4 separate regions of the Homo sapiens genome follow, and all the other regions are linked to region 3. The links come from fine-mapping of genetic effects on gene expression. A gene starts in region 3. Each other region holds a variant in brackets. All regions are shown on one strand. Distances are from middle to middle. Region 1 overlaps OSBPL3 (oxysterol binding protein like 3). Region 2 overlaps OSBPL3 (oxysterol binding protein like 3). Region 3 holds the start of OSBPL3 (oxysterol binding protein like 3). Region 4 has its middle 48 kb from the start of OSBPL3.

What was found.
Region 1: its variant is fine-mapped to the expression of OSBPL3 in lung (GTEx, PIP 0.93).
Region 2: its variant is fine-mapped to the expression of OSBPL3 in whole blood (TOPMed, PIP above 0.99). The same link has a PIP of 0.9 or more in blood mononuclear cells.
Region 4: its variant is fine-mapped to the expression of OSBPL3 in whole blood (TOPMed, PIP above 0.99). The same link has a PIP of 0.9 or more in blood mononuclear cells.

Annotation. Positions count from the first base shown.
Region 1 is chr7:24,858,442-24,863,441 of GRCh38, reverse strand. It overlaps OSBPL3 (oxysterol binding protein like 3), which reads left to right. Exons shown (of 23, transcript NM_015550.4): 9 at 150-242; 10 at 1,673-1,829. Among named protein-coding and RNA genes, the nearest start is that of GSDME, 100 kb to the right of the region's middle. The variant G/A (reference allele first, on the strand shown) is at 2,900.
Region 2 is chr7:24,906,703-24,911,904 of GRCh38, reverse strand. All of the region lies in intron 1 of OSBPL3 (oxysterol binding protein like 3), which reads left to right. Among named protein-coding and RNA genes, the nearest start is that of OSBPL3, 71 kb to the left of the region's middle. RefSeq lists an enhancer at 1,076-1,225. The variant C/T (reference allele first, on the strand shown) is at 2,414.
Region 3 is chr7:24,977,124-24,982,325 of GRCh38, reverse strand. OSBPL3 (oxysterol binding protein like 3) reads left to right here and starts at 2,148. Exons shown (of 23, transcript NM_015550.4): 1 at 2,148-2,440. RefSeq lists an enhancer at 679-848 and silencers at 1,989-2,498, 2,549-2,758.
Region 4 is chr7:25,025,815-25,031,016 of GRCh38, reverse strand. No RefSeq gene overlaps it. Among named protein-coding and RNA genes, the nearest start is that of OSBPL3, 48 kb to the right of the region's middle. RefSeq lists an enhancer at 1,698-2,199. The variant C/T (reference allele first, on the strand shown) is at 2,238.

The DNA of each region.
Region 1 (5,000 bases), 120 kb after region 3:
CCTCCCAGCCTTTCACTAACAGTGGGATGCTGTGGTCAGTTGCTTCAGCCAAAGTCAAGGGGATGGAGGTGGTCACTTTGCTATGCATTTATCCTTGTCGGTTTGGTGGACTTTACTGTCTGTGCTCTCTTTCCTGTTTTGAAACAAAGGGTGGATCTTTTGAAAGTCCCAAAAAGGAAAAAAGATCGCACAGGAGGTGGCGGTCCAGAGCTATTGGCAAAGATGCTAAAGGAACACTGCAGGTAACCATTGCTTCCCCTGACAGACTGGTTTCTTCATTGGCCCTGCTCTGCATGCCGTGTGCCAGCAGCTACCTTGACTCAGCTAGGAGAATAGATGAGTGAATATTCTGTAGTTGTTCTTTCCAGTGTCCTCTGTAGCGAGATGAATTGAATCACTTAGATTATCTGGGTGCTAGGATAAGCACATAATGGATCGTGGGCAAGGGAGAGAATTTTTTCTAAGGGAAAAAGGGTGTGAGGTCGCAGGGACTGCTGCCATTTCTAGGGCTTTTGGTTTCCCCACCTTCACTGTTGAGCCTGCCTGTGCTCTTCCCTGCTTGTGTTTGTGCCTTGTTTTGTGGCTGCAGTTGCTGTGTGCTGTGACCTGTGTCTTCCGCTGATGCTCCATGGATTTGTCATCCCTCTAAGCCCACAGGCCTGATTCTCTGGGCACAGGACATGGTGTAGATTCTCCTTGGCCTCTTATCTCCAAACTCCCAATCCCTCATCCAGGATTCACTGTGTCATGCTAGGAGCTTTCCCAATGCACAGCTAAGCCACAGGCCAAGATTTGCAGCTTAACTGTTGCATATTAATTGCAACAGTTTTAGAATCAACATAAATCTCAAGCTTTTGGTTAGGTCACCTGATACACTTGTGTACACTCTTTGGTTCAAAGTAGTTTATGGACTGAAGATAAGCACTTTGGAAGTAAAGAATGTTCCATGTACAAATGAAGGTCATTTGTTTTGTAGAAGCCCTAGGTGCAAAGAAAAGCATTTTAAACCTATCCATTACTAACCGCCTGGATACATGGATGATTATTGCCAGGAGGAAGGAATTGAGTATAAATGAGAAAGCCTGGCAGCTTTAGCTGTCATTTTCAACCTATAGCTTTAATGCTTCTATCATTTCCAAAAGAATATGTGATTTCTCACCCATTTTTAGCTCACAAGAAGCAAGTTTCTGTGGAAAGTGTTGTCTTGAGTTCTCATTTTTTAAAATAAGTTATCACTCAGTAGAAAGACCTACCTAGGCTGGGCGCGGTGGCTCACGCCTGTAATCCCAGCACTTTGGAAGGCTGAGGCGGGCAGAACACAAGGTCAGGAGATCGAGACCATCCTGGCTAACACGGTGAAACCCCGTCTCTACTAAAAATACAAAAAATTAGCCGGGCGTGGTGGCGGGCGCCTGTAGTCCCAGCTACTTGGGAGGCTGAGGCAGGAGAATGCTGTGAACTCGGGAGGTGGAGCTTGCAGTGAGCGGAGATTGTGCCACTGCACTCCAGCCTGGGTGGCAGAGCGAGACTCCATCCCCCCCAAAAAAAAAAAAAAAAGACCTACCTATAAAATGTTTTGTATTTGTATTACCATGTTTCAATCTTAGAATCAAGTAAATATTCTAAGCAATCTGCATCTGAAAAGAAATATCTCCCTTTGGTGTTACTTCAGGTCCCGAAACCTTTTTCTGGCCCAGTAAGACTACACTCCTCCAATCCTAATTTGTCAACACTAGATTTTGGAGAAGAGAAAAATTATTCTGATGGCTCTGAAACCTCATCAGAGTTTTCTAAAATGCAAGAAGATCTGTGTCATATTGCCCATAAAGGTAAATGAGTTTTCTTTCTTCCTAATGTGTTTGATGAAAATGTTAAGTGCATGTCTGAATGTGAGATGTCCTTAGAGAGAGTATCTTAGTTGGTTCATTTTCTGCTCTATTAAGATTTAGGGAAACCTAATCTTTATTTTATTTCCCTAGTAGTGGAGAATGTATTGGCAAGAACTTTCTTTTTAACCTTGTGGGGGAGACAATGAGAGAGAGTTAGTACTTTAAAAGCTGAGCAATTCATGTGATGTTGGTGGGAGTGTAAATTGGTAATTTTCTGGAGGGCAATATGATATTATTTTCTCACTATTTTTAAAATCTGCCTATCTAGCAATTCCACTTTGAAGAATTCATTGTAGGAATTAACTTAGAATTTATCCAAACAAAGTATCCATTTTGCATTGTCACATCAAAAATTAGAAATAGGTATTCAACATCATTAGCCATTAGGAAAATGCAGATTAAAGCCATGATGAGATATCACTACACACCTATTAGAAGAGCCAAAGTTAAAAGGAAATATAGTATCAAATGCTGGTGAAAATGCATATAAATTTAATCTGTCATACATTGCTTGTAGCTATGTAAAATGGTGTAGCCACTCTGGAAAACAGTTTGGCAGTGTTGTATAAAATTAAACATGCATTTACCATGCAACCCAACACTCATTTCTGAGCATTTGTTCCAGATAAATGAAAATTTATGTCCACACACAAATCTATACCCATGTTCAAAGCAAGTTTATTTGTATTGGCCAAAGACTGGAAACAAACTCAAGTGGTTTTCAACAGATGAATGGTTAAACAAACTGTGGTACATCCATACAATGGAATACTCCTCAGCAATACCAAGGAACAAACTATTGATATACATAGCAACTTGGATGGATCTCAGGGACGTTATGCTGACAGAAAATAACCAATCTCAAAACATTACATAGTATAGGTGTATTACTCCATTTTCATGCTGCTGATAAAGACATACCCGAAACTGGGTAATTTATAAAGAAAAAGAGGTTTAATGGACTCACAGTTCCATGTGGCTGGGGAGGCCTCACAATCATGGCAGATGAC[G/A]AAAAGCATGTCTTACATGGTGGCAGGCAAGAGAGAATTAAAGCTAAGTGAAAAGGGAAACCCCTTATAAAACCATCAGATCTCATGAGACTTATTTACTACCACAAGAACAGTATTTGGGAAGCCACCCCCGTGATTCAATTATCCTTCACTGAGTCCCTCCCATAACACATGGGAATTATGGGAGCTATAATTCAAGATAAGATTTGGGTGGGGACACAGCCAAACCATATCTGTAGGGTTCCACTTACATAAATGTTTTGAAATGATATAATTATGGAGATGGAGGAAGTAAAGGGGAGTGTGATTATAAAGGGGTAGCACAAGGGATCTTGTAGTGATGAAAAATTCTGTATCCTGATTGTGGTGCTGGTTACAGGAATGTGGACATGTGATAAAATTGCATTTACTTATACCCACACACATACAAACAGATCAGTGAATGTAAATCTGGTGAAATCTGAATAAAATCTGTAGATTATACTAATGTCAACTCCCACGTTTTTATATTGTACCATAGATGTGTAAGATGTAACTACTGGGAGAAACTGGGTATAGGGTATGTGGGACTTTACTATTTTGCAATTACCTGTAAGTCAATAATGATTTCAAAATAAAAGGTTAAAAAAATAGAAATAATCTAAATGCCAAACAATAGGGGATTGAATTTTTTCAAAAACGTAATATAATAGAATACTCACTAATAATAATAATGAGAGCTACTTAACATCGAGCACATAACTGTCACGTCAGGTATTTGCTAATTACTTTACGTGCATTATTTTAATTCTAGCTGCAGCCTGCGAAGTAGGTATCATTATGATCTCTATTGCATAAATAAGAAACTTGAGACTTAGATAAAATAACAGCTTCCTGAGGGTCACATGGTTACAAAGCAGCCAGCATGAGACTTGAATTCTCACCTGTTTGACCCCAGAGTCCATAATCCTTACCTGGTATTTCTCTGCTCTTACAGATGGAGTGGCCAGCGTTATTTTTTATAGTTGTAGAAAGATGTCCTCAGCATAAAATGTAAAGTAAAAATGTAAGGTTACAAAACAATATATAGGTATGATCCTATTTCGGGCATATATAGGTATACTAAAAAGTCTGGAAGGATATATACAAACATTTAAGTGATGGAGGCTGGAGTTCTAAGTGCTTATTTATCTTTCTGCTTAACTTTTTTTTCAATTTTCATATATTATTTCTTAAAGAGAAAATGGATTTAAAATTTTTCAGTGGGAGGGCAGTGTGTAATATGGGAAGAGAGAAGATATTCCCTCTATTGCCTTCCTTTCCTACTTCGTATTTTTGTTTCGTACATTACTGATTCCTTCAGCTCTCTCTTCCCTTACCCTCTAAATTTAAAACATGTTGGATATGAGGTGGGTTATAAGGAAACCATTTCATCCTTTATACAGATTGCTACCTGGAATGCTTGTCCTAATTACCATTAGACTGTTATGAGTGTTTTGTTGTGCAGTTCATCCGTGAAATGGCAAGAGTTACCTGGCCCACCCTTAAAGGATCTTCAAAGAATTTGAAGAATTAAAATAATCAGTTGCAATTAGGGCATCTTAAGTTTTGTGGGAGGAAATTCCTATAAAACATTGTTACTTTTTAATAATACAAACTTTTAAACAATGAGAAGATAATGCCTCCCTACACAGAGGAAATGTCCTGAGTTTCACCTCCATTGAAGAAGCTGCCTCCTCAGCAGGACAAAGGTTGCCATACTGAGTGGATCCATTGATCCAGTCCTCCTGCAGAGGTCTCCACCTTGTTGAAAGTCTGTAATGGGCCCCATCCAGCAGTTCTGTCTTTCCCACTTTGTGAAAACCTGCTGGCTGCAGAGCTGCCACATACCTAGACTGGGCCAAGGTTTGTCCTGGAGAAAGGTCCAATGCACTTATTCAACAGTTGCCTGAGCCCTGTGGGCTTACAGACAACAAATTCCACAGGGAGCCTAACAAGGTGTTTCATTCCTGTGGTTTTACAGTACACTTGCAGAGAGGGAAAGATCTTCCTTTTCCTGGTTCAGGGAGTCTCTTGCACAGATTGTAATTTGGGGGCCTCAGAGAATAAAGACAGCTCTCAG
Region 2 (5,202 bases), 70 kb after region 3:
AACCACCCCACCTTTTTAAAACCTGTTTACTCTGCCTTTTCCTTTTATGTCTCTCTTTTTTCCAGTTTGCACTAGTTTAAAAGTGTCTCAGGTTAAGTTTTTTGCAGTAATCTTTCTTTCCCCTAGAAGTGAGTAAAACTTCCTGTATCCCTTTTTCTCCCCACCTATGTTCCCTAAATTAGTGATTCTCTTACAAGGAATTATTATCGCCCCTGCAGTTTTGGAAGGATACCTCCAAAATATATCTTGGGGACTTCGATTTATAGAATTTGGTTTAAGCTTAGATTCTGAGTCCCAGGGTTATTTTTAGTTAAGTGGACAAACAAACTTGAAGTGTGTACATCTGATACATGACCCACTAGGGTATTTTGTTTCTTGTTATTTGAGAGTGTTCAGTTAGCACTTATAGAGCATTACCCATTGTTAGCTGGCTGTTTACATTTCTGAAAAGATGATAAGTTGATTTTTGTAGGAAATAGGGAAGTTTTAAAACTTCATGCTCACATTTCATAGTAACTCAATTGATAGTCTTTTTAGATAAGTAATGAAATGCTGCCTGTGGTTGCCAATTGTTAAAACTCTACCAAGCTTCCGCAAGCAGTTGTCGGTTAAGGGAGCGTAATAACACCCACTGATAAAATTCAAACCACCAGATGTTATTTTAAGTTCTTGGGTGGTGCTATCTTTTCTTACCCTTTAAACTGCTAAGTCACATCCTGCTTTGCATTTCAATTTGGTATAAATTGGATGCAGCAGACATAGGTCTGGCATAAGATGCTCAAACAAAATTAAATACCAAAATTAAAGAAGGCAGTTCTGTGGAGTAAATCTGTCATTTCTGGATGCAAGATTATGTTAGAGCAGTGGCTCAACCCTTGCTGTGTATCCAAATCACCTGGGAGTGTCTCAGGATGCCCTTGCCCTGGCCTCATCCCCAGTGTCTGGACCAGTTAGTATGAAATGGCACCAGGCTTTGGGATTTTGTAGAAGCTTCCCAGGGTGATCCTGTCACGCAGCCGGGGTTGAGAAATGTTGCAGGAGGTGCCCCTCCCGACCCAGCTCACAGCTTTGTCCTCCATGCTTCTCTCTACCTAGTCAAGCCCTATCCACATCTTCACGGCTCCCTGCAGGCCACCTCTTCCTAAGCTTTTTCTCACAACTCCAGCCCCACTGAGCTCTTCCCTTGTGACTGCCCATAGCACCTACCAGATGGCCCACCCTGGGGTGTGTTCTGGCTTGTTTCATTTGTGACATCTTATCTCCTTGATCACAGTGGTTTCCTCCTTGGATTAAGTTTCTGTCACTTAGTTTCCATCACTGAAGGGTTAGCACAGCAGTGGACACATAGTAGTTACTTTATAGGATATATACTGAATTGAGTTTTCATCAGTGTGCCTGTCTTCTTTTTGCCACCTGTCTTTCCACTGTAGCTTCCTTTATTAGCCCACATTTATTCATAAGTATTTCTTCCTTGTAAGGTGTTGAAGGACAAGTAAGAGTAGCTAAGCTGCAGAAGGAGGAGGAAAACTCAGCCCATTTCTGATTTCTCCATTCAGGAATGGAGGAGTTGTCATAGGACCTATGGACTCATCTCTCTCCATTCAGAACATTGATTCATCCTGATCTGTAGTGACTCTTGGGACCACGTGGGTGATAAATGCAACATGAAAGGGGCTGGCTTGCTGGAGAAGGTGAAAATGATTTGAAGATTGGATGTCTACCATCTATCCTATTTTGAGCATTTGGGATTATTTCAGGCCAGGGTAATACACACCTTCAAATTGAAAATAGTAGCTTTCGGCCAGCCACGGTGGCTCACACCTGTAATCTCAGCACTTTGGGAGGCCGAGGCAGGTGGATCACCTGAGGTCAGAAGTTCGAGACCAGCCTGACCAACATGGCGAAACCCCATCTCTACTAAAAAGTACAAAAATTAGCCGGGCATGGTGGTGTGTGCCTGTAATCCCAGCTACTCATGAGACTGAGGCAGAAGAATTGCTTGAACCTGGGAGGCAGAGGTTGCAGTGAGCTGAGATCTGAGCTGAGATCACGCCACTGCGCTCCAGCCTGGGCGAGAAAAGCAAGACTCTGTCTCCAAAAAAAAAAAAAAAAAAAAAAAAAGAAAGAAAAAAAAAACAGTAGCTTTCCTTATTTTGTCAAATAATGAAAAGGATTCTTACTGCCATAGGTTCCTGTTTCTGGCACAGGAAGCTGGCCAGGACAGAGGTGATTGGCAGCTTTCTGTTAAGACGTACAGAGGTGACCTAAGGTTCCTAATTTGAAGGCATGCCAGCTTCTTAGGGCCAATGTTATTTGTGCTATACCTGTGTAACTGAGAGATTCAAAAATTAGGTAACTTTAACACGATTAAAGTTTATTTCTCTCTCATGTAACTGTTCAGATATTGTTATTC[C/T]TTGGCTGGCATGGTGACACTATGGTCTTCAACCAGTGTGTCTTTCATTTCTGGGTCCAGCTATCACCACCTCCCAGCTCTCAGGAATGGGGAAAGGGCAGGGAACATGTGTATCTCTTTTTAGGACCATGACCTGGAAGACAAACAACTCTGCTCACATCTCATTGGCAGCCCTTAGTCACAAGCCCCTACCAAGCGGCAAAGAATGCTAGAAGTGAAAGCCTCTTATTAGATGCCCATGAACCACATTAAAACTCGAGAGTTCTATTATTAAAGAAGGGGAGAGTGGATATTGCTGGATAACAAGCCAAGGCATGCATGCTAACTTACCAAAATATCAGATCTATCAGTTATCACCCCGTTCACTGGTTTGGGTAAAAACACTCTAAATGTCAAAAGAAACCTCAAATGTATCATGAGTTCTGTGAAGTCATGGTAGAAAAGTAGAGAACTTGAGGGGGATGTTTGATGTCTCTACTTTTTGGGGAAAGGTAGACCATGTGCTTGAAAAGGACACGCAAAGTAACTACAGCACAGATAGTGTTGATAAGCCGAGTTTGGTTTGTGGAGCAGGCTCTTGCCATCTTTTGAGGACAAGTGTGTTTGGCAAGAGATTTGCTAACTTGTTTAAGAGAGTTGAACTGAAATTTGATGGGAAGGAAAAAACGTTAAAACTTGATTGGCTAGAGAACAACCGGCAGAGCAAAGATAAAAAGACCAATAACAGAGGAGGAGAACATCAGTAATTTCTTTTTAAAAAAGCCTGGGCAGCTGGTTGGTAAAATACCTGCAGCTCTTTGCCATTGTGCAGCTTATGAGAATGAAGCAAAATAAACTTGAAACATTAAAACTTGGATATAGATAGCATCACTGGATCTGTCTCACCACGGTTAGCGTGGTTCTCGTGACTAGAATATGATTTTAGAAGGGGATGTTTTACTGTAAAGAAGCAGTCTTGGGGAAATCTAGACCTTAATGATGAATCCCTGGGTAAAGAGGGCATGGTAGGGAAGAAAGATTGTAATAGGATCAGTATTATGGATGGCCAGATAGAGGCTATGGAGGGCGCTTTCTTCTCAGAAACTGAAACTTTAGAATGAATACCACATGTGCTGATAAAAAGGAGATTCAATCAGATAATCACCCACTGGATGTTTCATTCGGCTAACTTCTGATAAACTCTTGACTTGTTTTGCCGATCATTTAATTTTTAAGAAGACTGAAAAAATAATGCAGAGAATGATAGCTCTGGGTTTCTTTCTGAGCCAACAAGGAAGCATTAACTAGTGATAGAAAGTGGCAGGAACCAGGAAATGAAATCCCCAAAGAAGGATGCTTTGGGCATAACATCTCTATGGTACTAGAAATATTTGAAACAAGTCAGAGAAAAGAGAGAAATGATGTCTCTTGTGGCCAAAGACTTAAAATGGCAAGGAGATCTCACAAGGAAGGAATAGCTGAAATATTCTGAAATACATAAGTAATCCCAAATGATTCCAGTGAACAGTAAAGACAGAAGTCTCCTATGGGAATAAATAAATGTGCTCACACTGAGAACTCTTTCCTTGGCTCAACAAAGATTGCTACCAGTCTTTGTAAATTACTTTCCACAGAATGTAGAGGTGAATAAAATGCAGTCCCGAGTGAGATATAGACCCAACATCTAGCAGTCAGGATATGAAGAGTGAGTCAGAGTGCAGGAAACGTGACTAATACTTTCAGGTAGCGCAAAAGGAAAGCAGAGTCCAAGAGGAAACAAACGCATTTGGGGTGGGAGAGGGGTTGAGAAAAGGCTTCATGGAAAAGGCAATGCTGAAAGTGATCTTCGGAAGATGGAGGACTTTGCCACAGACGGAAGAGAGAAAGTGGGTTAGGAGGGTGCTCCATAAAGAAGGACTCACTAGGAGAAAGGGAGAGTGCAGAATACAGGGTATGTATATATGAGTTGTTAGAGATGAAGTTTGAGTGATAACAGCCAAAGTGTAACTGAGTGATGTCTGGCAAGGACTATGCTGAGTGTTTTACATGCATTATTTTAGTCAATCTTCACAAAACCCTGTGAGGTTAGTACAGTTATTCATGCCTGCTTTCACATGACGAAGCAACTCAGACATTTAGCCACAGAGTGAGAGGTAGATCCAGAGTCCAAAACCAGTGAAATGCAACTATGTAGTGGAGGGTTTTGCCTGCCAGGCCTTGCTATTTTACTTAAGCTTGTAGGCATTGGGAATTTGGAGCAGGGGAGAGCCTGGCGATAAATTGAACTAGGGAATGGATATAAGGATTGAAGTGCTGGGAGAGAAAATGTGGAGTCAGTTGCAGGGCCTAATGGTGGTCTAAAATGGATAGGTTGTTTTGAGAATAGAAGAATATAAAACACATTGGGGGGTGATGAGGTCAGTGTCAGGGAGAGAGAGAATCTACACTACTGGGGGCTCTGGGAGAGGGAGTTTGGTTGGATTAATAGAGGGTGGGTATCTTAATCAGAGTCAGGGAAGCCAGTGGCAGGTATTAATATCAGCATGAGGGAGTAATGAGCATAGGCTTGCTGTTCCAGTGATGAATCCAGGGGCCAACACCAGGCTGGGGACTGGAGTGTGGGGGTAGGGAGCAGTGTAGAGGCTTTACTAAGGTAAGGGGCCTGTAAAGATGATCAAGAGCTGAAGTGCATAGAGAGAAGTGGATGAGGGACAAAACTTTGGTGACTGCCCATGGAACTGGGAGAGAAAAGGAGACAGTAAGCAACACTTTAAAGTTAAGAGGTATCAGCACTCCTGTGTTCACAGAAG
Region 3 (5,202 bases):
ACTTGGAGACAAGGCACAATGTGAATAATTCTCTCATCCTGTCCAATTAACTGCCTCAAGTACACACACACACACACACACACACACACACACACACACACACACAGAGAGAGAGAGAGAGAGAGAGAATGTACACTCTATTATTATTTGATTAGGAAGACATTAATGAAAAAGCTCGGAACGGGATGCTAAACAACAAAGCCCTATGCAAATCACTTCCTTTCGGATTGAAGGCTTGTCTCCTACAGAAAAACCAATGCTAAAGAAACAGGCGGAGAGGCTGAAGGTGGAGAGCAAAAGAAAAAGAAAGAAAATAGCTTGAACGAGGAAAGGGACTGGCAGGAGGAGGACAGAGCAAGCCTCTCTCAGAGAGAAATTACAGAAAGACGGAAGGAGGTTTGGGAAAACCCAGTCTAAGCTGCTCCGACGGCGGGGCTGGGCGTGGGCAAGGTGCCTCCTTGGACGGTCCGCGCGCCTGCCAGACGCGTCCTTCCACTACCCGTCCAGCCACCTGGCGCTGGTCGGGCTTTGCGAGGTGGTTTAGGAACCGCGGAGTCATTCGATTTGAAATCTTCTCCAATAAGCTTCTCCGTGTGCCGACGTGGGCAGCATGACAGTGGATTTGCTCGGCAGCATCTCTGGCGCCTCCCGCCCTCGCCCGCCGCCTGCCAGATCCGAAACAGACAGTCCCAGACATTTCGCGAGGGGGATGGTTCCAGAAAGCGAAGATCTGAGCGTGGTGAATGAAATGTGAACAGAATAGCTCCGGAAAGAGTCTCAGAAACCTTGAATTGGGGTCAGTTTGGAGACTGAAAATGCGTCGAGCGCTGCAGGTGGTGGTTGGCAGGGGGATTTAACACTGTGGAGCCCTTACTCCGTCCCAGGCGCTGAGCCCAGCGAGCCACGCGCGGTGCCCAGCTCGGTGAGGTCGGTTAGTTGGGTCTTCAGGGAGGCTAAATACCCTGTATTTGCTATTCCCTTCGCCTGGAACGCTCTGTGCGAGACTGGGTGTGGCAGCTCCTTTCCCAGGCTCAGGAATCTGGGTAAAAGCCACCCTCGCCTAGAGGCCCTCAGGGTGAGCGCCCCATCACGCGCTAAACCACTTTCGAAAGTGGACTTGGCCCTCCTCTCAGTACTAACAGTCTGTCAGCCTTTTATTTTTTGCATAGATATGTATTTTCTCTTCTTTATTGTCTGTCTTTCCACAAAAAATGCAAGCCCCGTGAGTACTGGAGCCTGGTGCGCCTTTCTCACAGTTGCAAGCTCGCAACTGCTCCTGGCATATACTAGGTGCTCACTAAATGCTCATGCCCTTCCCACCCGCCACCTGCGGCACTCGACACATTTGCAGTCTGCAAACTGACCCCAAACCATCAGCTGCTTGCATTCGTCCTAGGATCAAAGAAGGCCATTGGGCTAGTGGGAAGTCAAGTCGGGTGGACTTTTCCGTCTTTCAGGGAGATTTAATAGTAACGACGGTGCTCTCCCCACCTCCTACCCCCTTGCACATAAACTGCACAGAACAAAATCACCCCGGCACGAATCTGCACGACTGCCTCTGGAGGTAGGGTCACGGTCTCCGAGCCCCGGGTCTCACACTGATGCTGTCCTTTGTCATCTCGTGCCTAGAGTGCTGCCTCCCTATGTATTTCCTCTGTTCTCGACTCCTCTGCCACAGTCTGACTTTCTCGGGAGGTCGAGTTCTCCTAGCCTGTGCGACCGCAAGGGTCCCCTGGAGCCTTCTCCGTAAACCTGCCCCTCCCGCGCTGCCCTCACTTTTTCCTCCTTCCCTGGCCCGGAAAAGCCACTAGAGGAACATTTACCGAACGCCTACCGCGCGCAGGCACCGAGCTGGGCCACCGGGAGCCCCACCCAGTGCCTCGCCGCAGGACTCGCCTCCCTCCGCCCTCCCAACCCATCCGGAATCCGGGGTCCCTAGTTCCCCCGCCGCGTCATGGAATCCGCTGGCTTCTTCCGAGGACATCGCCCCACCTCCTTCCCGAAAGGCGACTTCTGATTGGTGAGATTGTGCATCACTCTGCCGCCCTCCCGCCCCCTCGGGGCCCCGCCCCTGGGCCTCTCAGGCCCCTCCCCTGCGCTCCCGCCCTTGCGCGGCTCCTCGGGCTAATCGCCGGGCGGCGCGCGCCGAGAAGTTCTGGGCAAAGTACTCAGAACTGGCCGCGTGCTGGTGGCGCCCGCCAGCCGGCCCGGGAGAGGGGACTTGAGCGCTTCGCGGCCGGTGCGCAGCGCGGCTCCGGCCCCGCAGTCTGTCTGCAAGTGGCCATCCCCGCCCCCGACTCCTGCGGCCGGTGCGGGAGCTGTCAGCTGCACGTTGCGGGGGTACCGGAGAAGCCGGGGTTGCCTTCTCCCGGTTCTGTGCGCTAACCCCGGAGCCCGGCCCCGGGGAACTAGGGAGCGTCTCCGGCTGCACAGCGCTCAGGTGAGTGGCGGGGCGCCCGCCTAAATGGGGCCTGGGTGTCGGGGGGCCTGGCGGCGGCGCGGGCTCGGAAGGGCTGCTGTTTGCGGGGCGCCGCGGTTCTCTGCCGGACCGGGGTCTGTCCGAGTCGCCCGGGGAGGCTCCGGCCCTGGGGCAGACCCAAGCCTGGGAGCTTGGGTGCCGGCTGCAGCTCCCGGGGAAGGAGGACCCGGGTCTCACCCACCCCAGGACACCTTCCCTCGAGGGACGGCTCAGAGGATTGACCGCCAGGAGGAGCCGAGCGCAGGGGCCGCGGCGCAGGTGCGGGAGGACGCGGCGCGCGGAGCTGTCCTGGGCAGCGGGGAGGCGCTACGCCGGGGCTAGAGGCTCAGGAAGCCTGGTAAATTGGGGCGAGCGCGAAGCTTTACCACATCCGCGGGATGGGGCGCGCCGGAGAGACTGAGACAACGCTCGCGGGGCAGGCGCTCCGCTCGCCCGCCTTCCCAACCCCGGCTTGCTCAGCTCCCCGGTGCTGGGCTGGAGGCCCAGGGCACATTCCTTTCTTGTCTGAATTTACATATTCATCAGCTTTCTGGCCCCTTCTGGAATTTTTTTTTTTTGTTAGTTTCCAATTACTACTGTTCAGATCACCTTCAGGCTCACCCTAACTCTCGTCTCAGTGTCTCTCACATTGGTCCTTTCCTGGAGGCCCTGCAGCGTCTTAGTTCAGGGTCTTAGGGACTTATGCACTCTGTCTGAACGTTGTCTACAGTTGGGTTTTCCTACCTCTGTCTCTGTTTATTCCGTGGTCAGGTAAATTCTTTAAGTACTGTCATCATAAGCCAGAAACTCCCAGGCAGCCTCTTAGCGCTGCCCAGCTTCCCGGGGAGCGTTTGTGGCCTCTGGAGTCGCTGATGGGCACTGTCGCAGGTCGTCCAGATACTTCTTAAGCAGGGGCGCGCCGCCCTTCCTTCGGCAACGCAACTTGCTTGCTGCCTTCTGCACACTTGTGCTTGTCCTTCTCCGCCTCACAAGCCACCAGTCTCCTCAGTCGGGACTCTTGGAGCTGAGGGGACTGTGAAGTTGTCGGTTTCCATGTGTCTGCGTACTGCGCAGAGGTGCTTGAGACCCCCTAGGTGTTGCTCTGACCCTCAGAGTTTGAGTATTGGGATGAGGGCATTTAGAAATATTTTAAACTACAGCTGCAAAAGAGATACTTCCACAGATGGGTGAAAGCGAAGGCCTGGCTTCTCATCATCTGCACTGTACCCCGCAAGTATCATACAAGGTGAGGTCCTTGGCTAAAGGACTATACTTGGCTAAAGGAGATCAGTCAAGCAGGCCTAGGTTCTTATGCATCCAAGCTAAATGACCATCCCCTCCAGCCAAGCCACATCACCCGTTTGCTGTTGCTCATAGCACTTAAATTTCTCTCTGAAATTGTCTCTTTGGGTTATTGGGTTATCTGCCTTCCCTCATTAGGATGTAAGTACCAGGAATGCAGAGACCTTGTCTGTCTTGTTCATCACTTGATCCCCTGTGTCAAGAACACGCAGTAGGTTTGCAGTAAACATTTATAGAATGAATAAATGAAACCTTCTCTGTAAATATGAGGAATGAGGATTTCATAGCTGATTTTGATTTTCATCTTTATCCTTTTTTTACTGTTGGGAAAATTAACAAATAGCAATACTAGGAACTTTTGTACATTACCGCATTAAACTTACAGAAGTCTGTTAGCTAGGTATTTTTAACCAGATGGGAAATTGAGGGTCCAGCAGGTTAACCTGTGTTGCCAAGGTTATCCTGGCAGAACTAGGATTCCAGCCCATTTTGTCTCTATTGTGCTTGACCTCTTCGAATAAACTAAAATGTGGTTTCCACCATTAGTTAATAGGCATTTAGCTTTATTTGTATCAAAAGCTATGGCTTAGCCAAAAGATTTACTGTTTTATTATTGAGATATATTTTCAGTAATCGTTAATAGTTACATCATAAGCCAGATACTCCCAGGCTGCAGTAAGCTGTAATTTTCTTTTTTCTTTTCTTTTTTTGAGACGTAGTCTCACGCTGTCGCCCAGGCTGGAGTACAGTGGCGCGATCTCGGCTCACTGCAAACTCCGCCTCCCGGGTTCATGCCATTCTCCTGCCTCAGCCTCCCGGGTGGCTGGGACTACAGGCGCCCGTCACCACGACCGGCTAATTTTTTGTATTTTTAGTAGAGACGGGGTTTCACCGTGTTAGCCAGGGTGGTCTCGATCTCCTGACCTTGTGATCTGCCCACCTCGGCCTCCCAAAGTGCTGGGATTACAGGCGTGAGCCACCGCGCCCTGCCCGTAAGCTTAATTTTCACCGTCTTGCTGGGCATTGTTGTGAGGTTATCTCCATTTTTCAGGTGAAGAATTGGAAAACGAGGTTTAGGAACTTGCCTAAGGTCACCAGTAAATTGCTGAGCTAGATTTTTTAATAGTCTGACTTCAATTCTCGCCCCACTAATTAGATGTTAACTCATGATAGAATCCAGTGATACAAATATTAAAACCATCTGAGATTGGGCTGTAAACTTTCTGGTGCTGATATCAAGTGTCTAGATGTACTGTTTTCAGAATCCCTGAGACTCTTACTGCCATTGATTTTTGTGCTTGGGTTTATGGTTTGTGGGCCTGATAGACTGGGGACTTTTAATACAGAAGGAAAGGAAATCCTCCTTTCATCTAAATCTAAAGAGAAATCTGATTTGTTTTACCCATTGTGGTAAATGAACCCTGAACAGTAATGCTTTATAC
Region 4 (5,202 bases), 49 kb before region 3:
AGGAATTACATTTGGTAAGTTTCAGAGAACAGAATCCACTCTAACCGGTTTAAGCAGGAATGGATATTAAATGGCTTGTAGCGTCATTGGGAGGGGAAAAGAAAGACTCAAGATGAAGCTTTCAGGAACCACTCACGGAGCTACACTGCTGAACTGGGCCACTAAAGGAGAGCTGCTAAATCTTTTGGTATCAGGAAGTCTCCAGCTTGACAATTGCCCCACCATTAACACAATGAGGAATTAAATTCTTTCTACACATATCTCACAGTCAAATTCTCAAAAGGAGCTAGAGTCTGTTTAGCTCCCTCGTCTCTGTATGGATGGTATTTCTTGCACCAGGCCACTCCCTAAATTTCGGACCAATTTAGAGATTGTTTGCTCTTGGGTTAGATGCTAAGTGTGTCCAAAGAGCTTCAGCCAAAGAAAGTCAATTTCATCTGGTACAAACATGGTGAAGGGTCATTGGGGATGAGAGTGTGGCCAACACATTTCCTCCTTCCTACTGTTAAGGAGATTAATTTTCCCATTATCAATACAGTTCTTCAGTGGCGATTGGTGACAAGTCGATCATCTGGTTGGATATCAATTAAATTAAAATCTGCTCTTAACCCTAATAGTCTCTTCACCTAATGCCCGACACAGAACCACAACCGCTTTAACGAAACAGGCCAAGATCGTAGAATCTTAGGACTAGGAAGAAATTCAGGGGTCATAAAATCCAGTGCTTACCGAATACCACTTTGTAACACATAGAGAAAAATAGGACAATGTAATGAGTTTTATTTTATCTAAATGAATTCAACGTAAAGACCTGGCTTTATTCTGGGATTTTTTTTTTTGTTGTTGTTCTCCTATTTCTTCAGCGATATATAGCTTTTGTTTGTTTAGGCTTTTCTTGGCAAAATAAAAATTGGGTTTTCCTTTGGGAATCCTCTCTTCAAGTTTCCTGTTGCTTTTTGATCTTATTCTGTTCATGCCCTCAAAGGCCTATACCACAGCTTTACTGTGACCTCGTGTCACTGTTTCTTTGTCAATTTCATCCTTTATTCCCCATCACCTATCAGGACATGGACTCCAGCCTCTCAGCACACCGAATTTGTGCCTGAGTGTGTGGTAAGACCTCAAGATAAAGGTTTGTCTTCTGTGATTCTTTGTCACTGCTTCGTCCCATGTCACATCTCACAGGGAATTATTTTGACACTCTCCCCTTATAAATGAGGTCCAACTCATTTGTGAGAACTTGAGCTGTAATTTGCAGTTTGTCGTGGCATGTTTTATCTACTTTGACTCGGGTTGTTTCTCTCCGTCTTATCATTTAACAAGTACATAGTCTATTTTTACTTCTCCTAACTCTAGCTTTTATTCCACCTATCCTTCGCCTGATATATTTTCCAGGACTTCTTTTTCTGGAATGATTTCTCGTTATCTCACTTATCTTAAATCCAAACTTAGTCTTTAGGTACAAGAATCTGTGACTTTTTCTATCCATTCACAAACATTTACTTATTGATGATTTCTTTTTAGGTTGCTTCCTTGGGCCGGTGAGCTCTTGGATCCATTTCTTGCCCTCCCCCAGTTCTGCCTTATGTCACAGGGCTGTGTGACCCCATGCAGGCTGGGCTTTTCAGGGCCCTGAGTCCCTTGGTTTCCAGCTGGGTTTGTGCAATGGGAGACTGGCTAGGGGGGCGGGGAGAAGCTCAGGCTCCAGCAGCCATGTCTCTCCCCACTGGTCTCACCACTGCCAGGCAGGCCCATCAAGGTCCCAGCTCTGATGACACCACCTGTCACCCAGGTCCCCTCAGCCCAGCAGCTAGAGGGCTTCTTGGTGGTGCTCAGCTCTGGGGTGCACCCCTTACCCTAGCAACCACTTCCCTGCATTGATCTCTGCTCTGAACACTCAGAGAGCTTTCTCTTTTCCAGGTTAGACCCTGACTGACATAAAGGTAAATTCTCAGAAGTTTAATTGCTGCATCACAAACTTTAAGACTTTAAAAGGAAGGTTAAAGAGATGTCTTTATGCTTTCTTACTCTCCCCAAGGCCTTTCTTCCACCTGTAACTTTCTGAGCAAGCTCAGGGCCCTTCCCTTCTACCATCTTCTCTGTTTACACATCTCAGCCCCTGGGCATTGGAATATCTGTCTGATCACAGTTCATTTTTTAAAATGATAAACAAAGCAAAGAGGTGAGATGGAAAGTCACCACTTCCTGTGGTAATTGTTATCTAGGCTTTCAGAACA[C/T]GCCTAGGCAAGTGGAAAGAATAAGCAATTATCTGCGTAATTCAAGCAAACATTGACTCCCCTTATTTGACATGAGTGGCTAGTGGAAGGAAGGGAGAAGTGGAATTAATTACTAATGCCTTTGAAATCTCAGGAATTAGCTAGGGAGTTGCTGAACTCACGACGTCATTTTTTCACGACGTCATTTTCTATCGGGAGTCTGGTGAAGGAATGGCATCTGGCTGGCCATTTCAACGATTTCACCAAGTTTTGAATTTTGGCAGGACTAAGTCAAAGAACAAAGTGACTTTTGTGGTTTCTGGAGCAGAAAGACTTAGTGACTTTGACTCAGCAAGCCAGATGAGAAGGCTCCAGGCACTGCCTCCCCAGGCATGGAGATGGCTGCCTATAAATCTGAGTTACTGCATTTTTCACTTGCATCAGACAGGGCCCTCATTAGAAACAAGGCTACCATCAAATTTGGGTCAAGGTCTGGCTTCGTGTTGTGATTTACCAAATAAAGACTATCAACTGTCTTTTTCAGGCTGCTGATTTATCTTTAGCTTTCTCTGAATTTGTGACTCTAAAAGACCGTGCTTATTTGGCAATGTAACATAATCACGAAAATAAATTGTATAGCAAGCCATTCTTTGAATGCAGACATAGGGAGGCAGCTGCGGTGGAAAGAGCCCTGATCTTGCAGTCAAGAGATCTGAGTTTGAGTCCAGACCTTACTACTCACTAGCTGAACAACCACACTCAGCCACCAAATCACAGTGAGTTTCTTATCGATTAAAATTAAGTGCTATGAAAGTGAAGAAGTTAACATGAAAGAGTAACATACAAGCACAAATTAATATTATTATTAAATTCTTCAGTTCCATTTTTTCAGTGTTGGTTATGGACTGGTGCTAACTCTCCGGCTACTTGCATCCTTTCATTAGCCCATTGTTAAAAGCAACGGATGAAATAGCAGGCGTGTCAGGGTAGCTAGTCAGGGGCTACCATTGACATGGCTACACGGGGACCAGGGTCTGAAAGCCACAGCTAAAGTAACCCTCTGTTTGATAGTCGGGTTTCAAAATTATAAACTGAGAGATCCTAGTCAGGCTCAGATGGGAGCACATCCCATTTCCTCTGCTTCCTCCCTCAGCTCGCCCTTCCTGACTTCCTGTGAGTGCCACTATTTGGACATTTTGAGGTCCTAGCAGCTCTCCTCCCATACAGCTGTGGGGACAGGCTACTCTCAGCAAGCCAGACCATCTCAGGCCGACTGGACACAGTGAGCATGAACACAGTGAACAATCTTTTAAAACAGACCCAGAAAATAACATGAAGCCAAGAACAAGGTAGATACCATTTGCAATTTAAAGTGTGATATCATAGGAACAAAAGCGTTTTGACTGTCACTGAAGCTTTGTTTTCCCAGGCCAGAAAAACTGTGAAAGAACAACTAGAAATGAATGTACACGTATTTTGTTTTGTTCTGATAAATGCTGGATCAGAGCACATTGCCTCAACTGTCTACATCCTTTCAGTCCAGAAGAATAGCCAGCAGACATCTATCTTCTCTGCAGGATGAGAAACTAAGTTTCACGGACATTCTTCAGAGGTTGTTTTCATTCCTTTTTTTTTCCCTTGAGACAGAGTCTCGCTCTGGCACCCAGGCTAGAGTGCAGTGGCACCATCTTGGCTCATTGCAACCTCCGCCTCCCAGGTTCAGGCAATTCTCATGCTTCAGCCTCCCAAGTAGCTGGGACTACAGGTGTGTGCCACCATGCCCAGCTAATTTTTGTATTTTTAATAGAGACAGGGTTTCCTCATGTTGGCCAGGCTGGTCTCGAACTCCTGGCCTCAAGTGATCCACCCACCTCAGCCTCCCAGACTGCTGAGATTACTCCAGTAGGATTTTTCTGAGTGTTCCTAGGTTTGTGATCAAATATTATAAGGCCATGAAAATGGCATTGATCTAGGCTTAATGAACTGATGAAACAAACACTTATGGATATCTTCCATATGCCAGGTGCAGTTCTAGTCAGTGCACTGAAAATACAGCAATGGATAAGAAAGGTGATCCCAGACCTCAAAGAGCTTATATTCTGGTGGGGACGGGGGGAGGTAGATAAAAAAGTATACAAATAAACATGCAATATAAATTCTAGTAGCAATAAGTTTTAGTAAAAATAAATAAATATGTAAAGCCTAGAAACTTAATATTTATAGTAAGTATACAAGAAAGAATTTAGAGACTATTTTAGATGAGGTTGTCAGGGTAGGTATCTCTGAGTGACATTAGAATTGAGACCTAAATGAGGTGAGGAAGTGGCCTCTAGGGCTGTTTGTGACAGGAGGAGCAAACTCTAATAGGATCAGCATGAGCTCCTGAGGTCGGTGTATTTGCAAAACAATGAGGCAGCCAGGGTGGCCACTCAGAGTGTGATGGAGAGAGCGCTAGGAGATGGGTCTGAACCCAGCTCCTACTGCTAAGTAGCCACAGGACTTGGCTCGATTTACTTAAATTCTAGGTGCTATGGATTTCTTGTAATTATTAAGGTTTTTGATAGCTATTAACAGAACCCAATTTTGAGCTAGGTTAACTAAAAAAGAGAATGTATAATAAGTATACAAGAATGCCTCCCAGAAAGCAAGGGCAGGAGACCATCTAGTCCTCAGGACAGAACTAGAACCAGAACTAGTGGCTAACAAGACATCACCACCACCCACAAAGCAAGACTTTCACTCTTTCTCTCACCTTTATTTCTCTCTTAATGGCATATTTCTTCTTTTCTCTCTACTGTCCAGCTTTATCTGTTCCTCTGCCAAGAGGTACCTCCTATAACATCTGAGTTGGCCCATTTAGCCCAAATGCCAGCCGTTCCCCTGTCCAGCCCCTGTTCTTGTCTCACACAAGCATGGACACAGGGCTCTGCACTCACCAAAACATAAGAGGCCCATCTGACTTTACTGAGGAGTTCGCAGGACAATG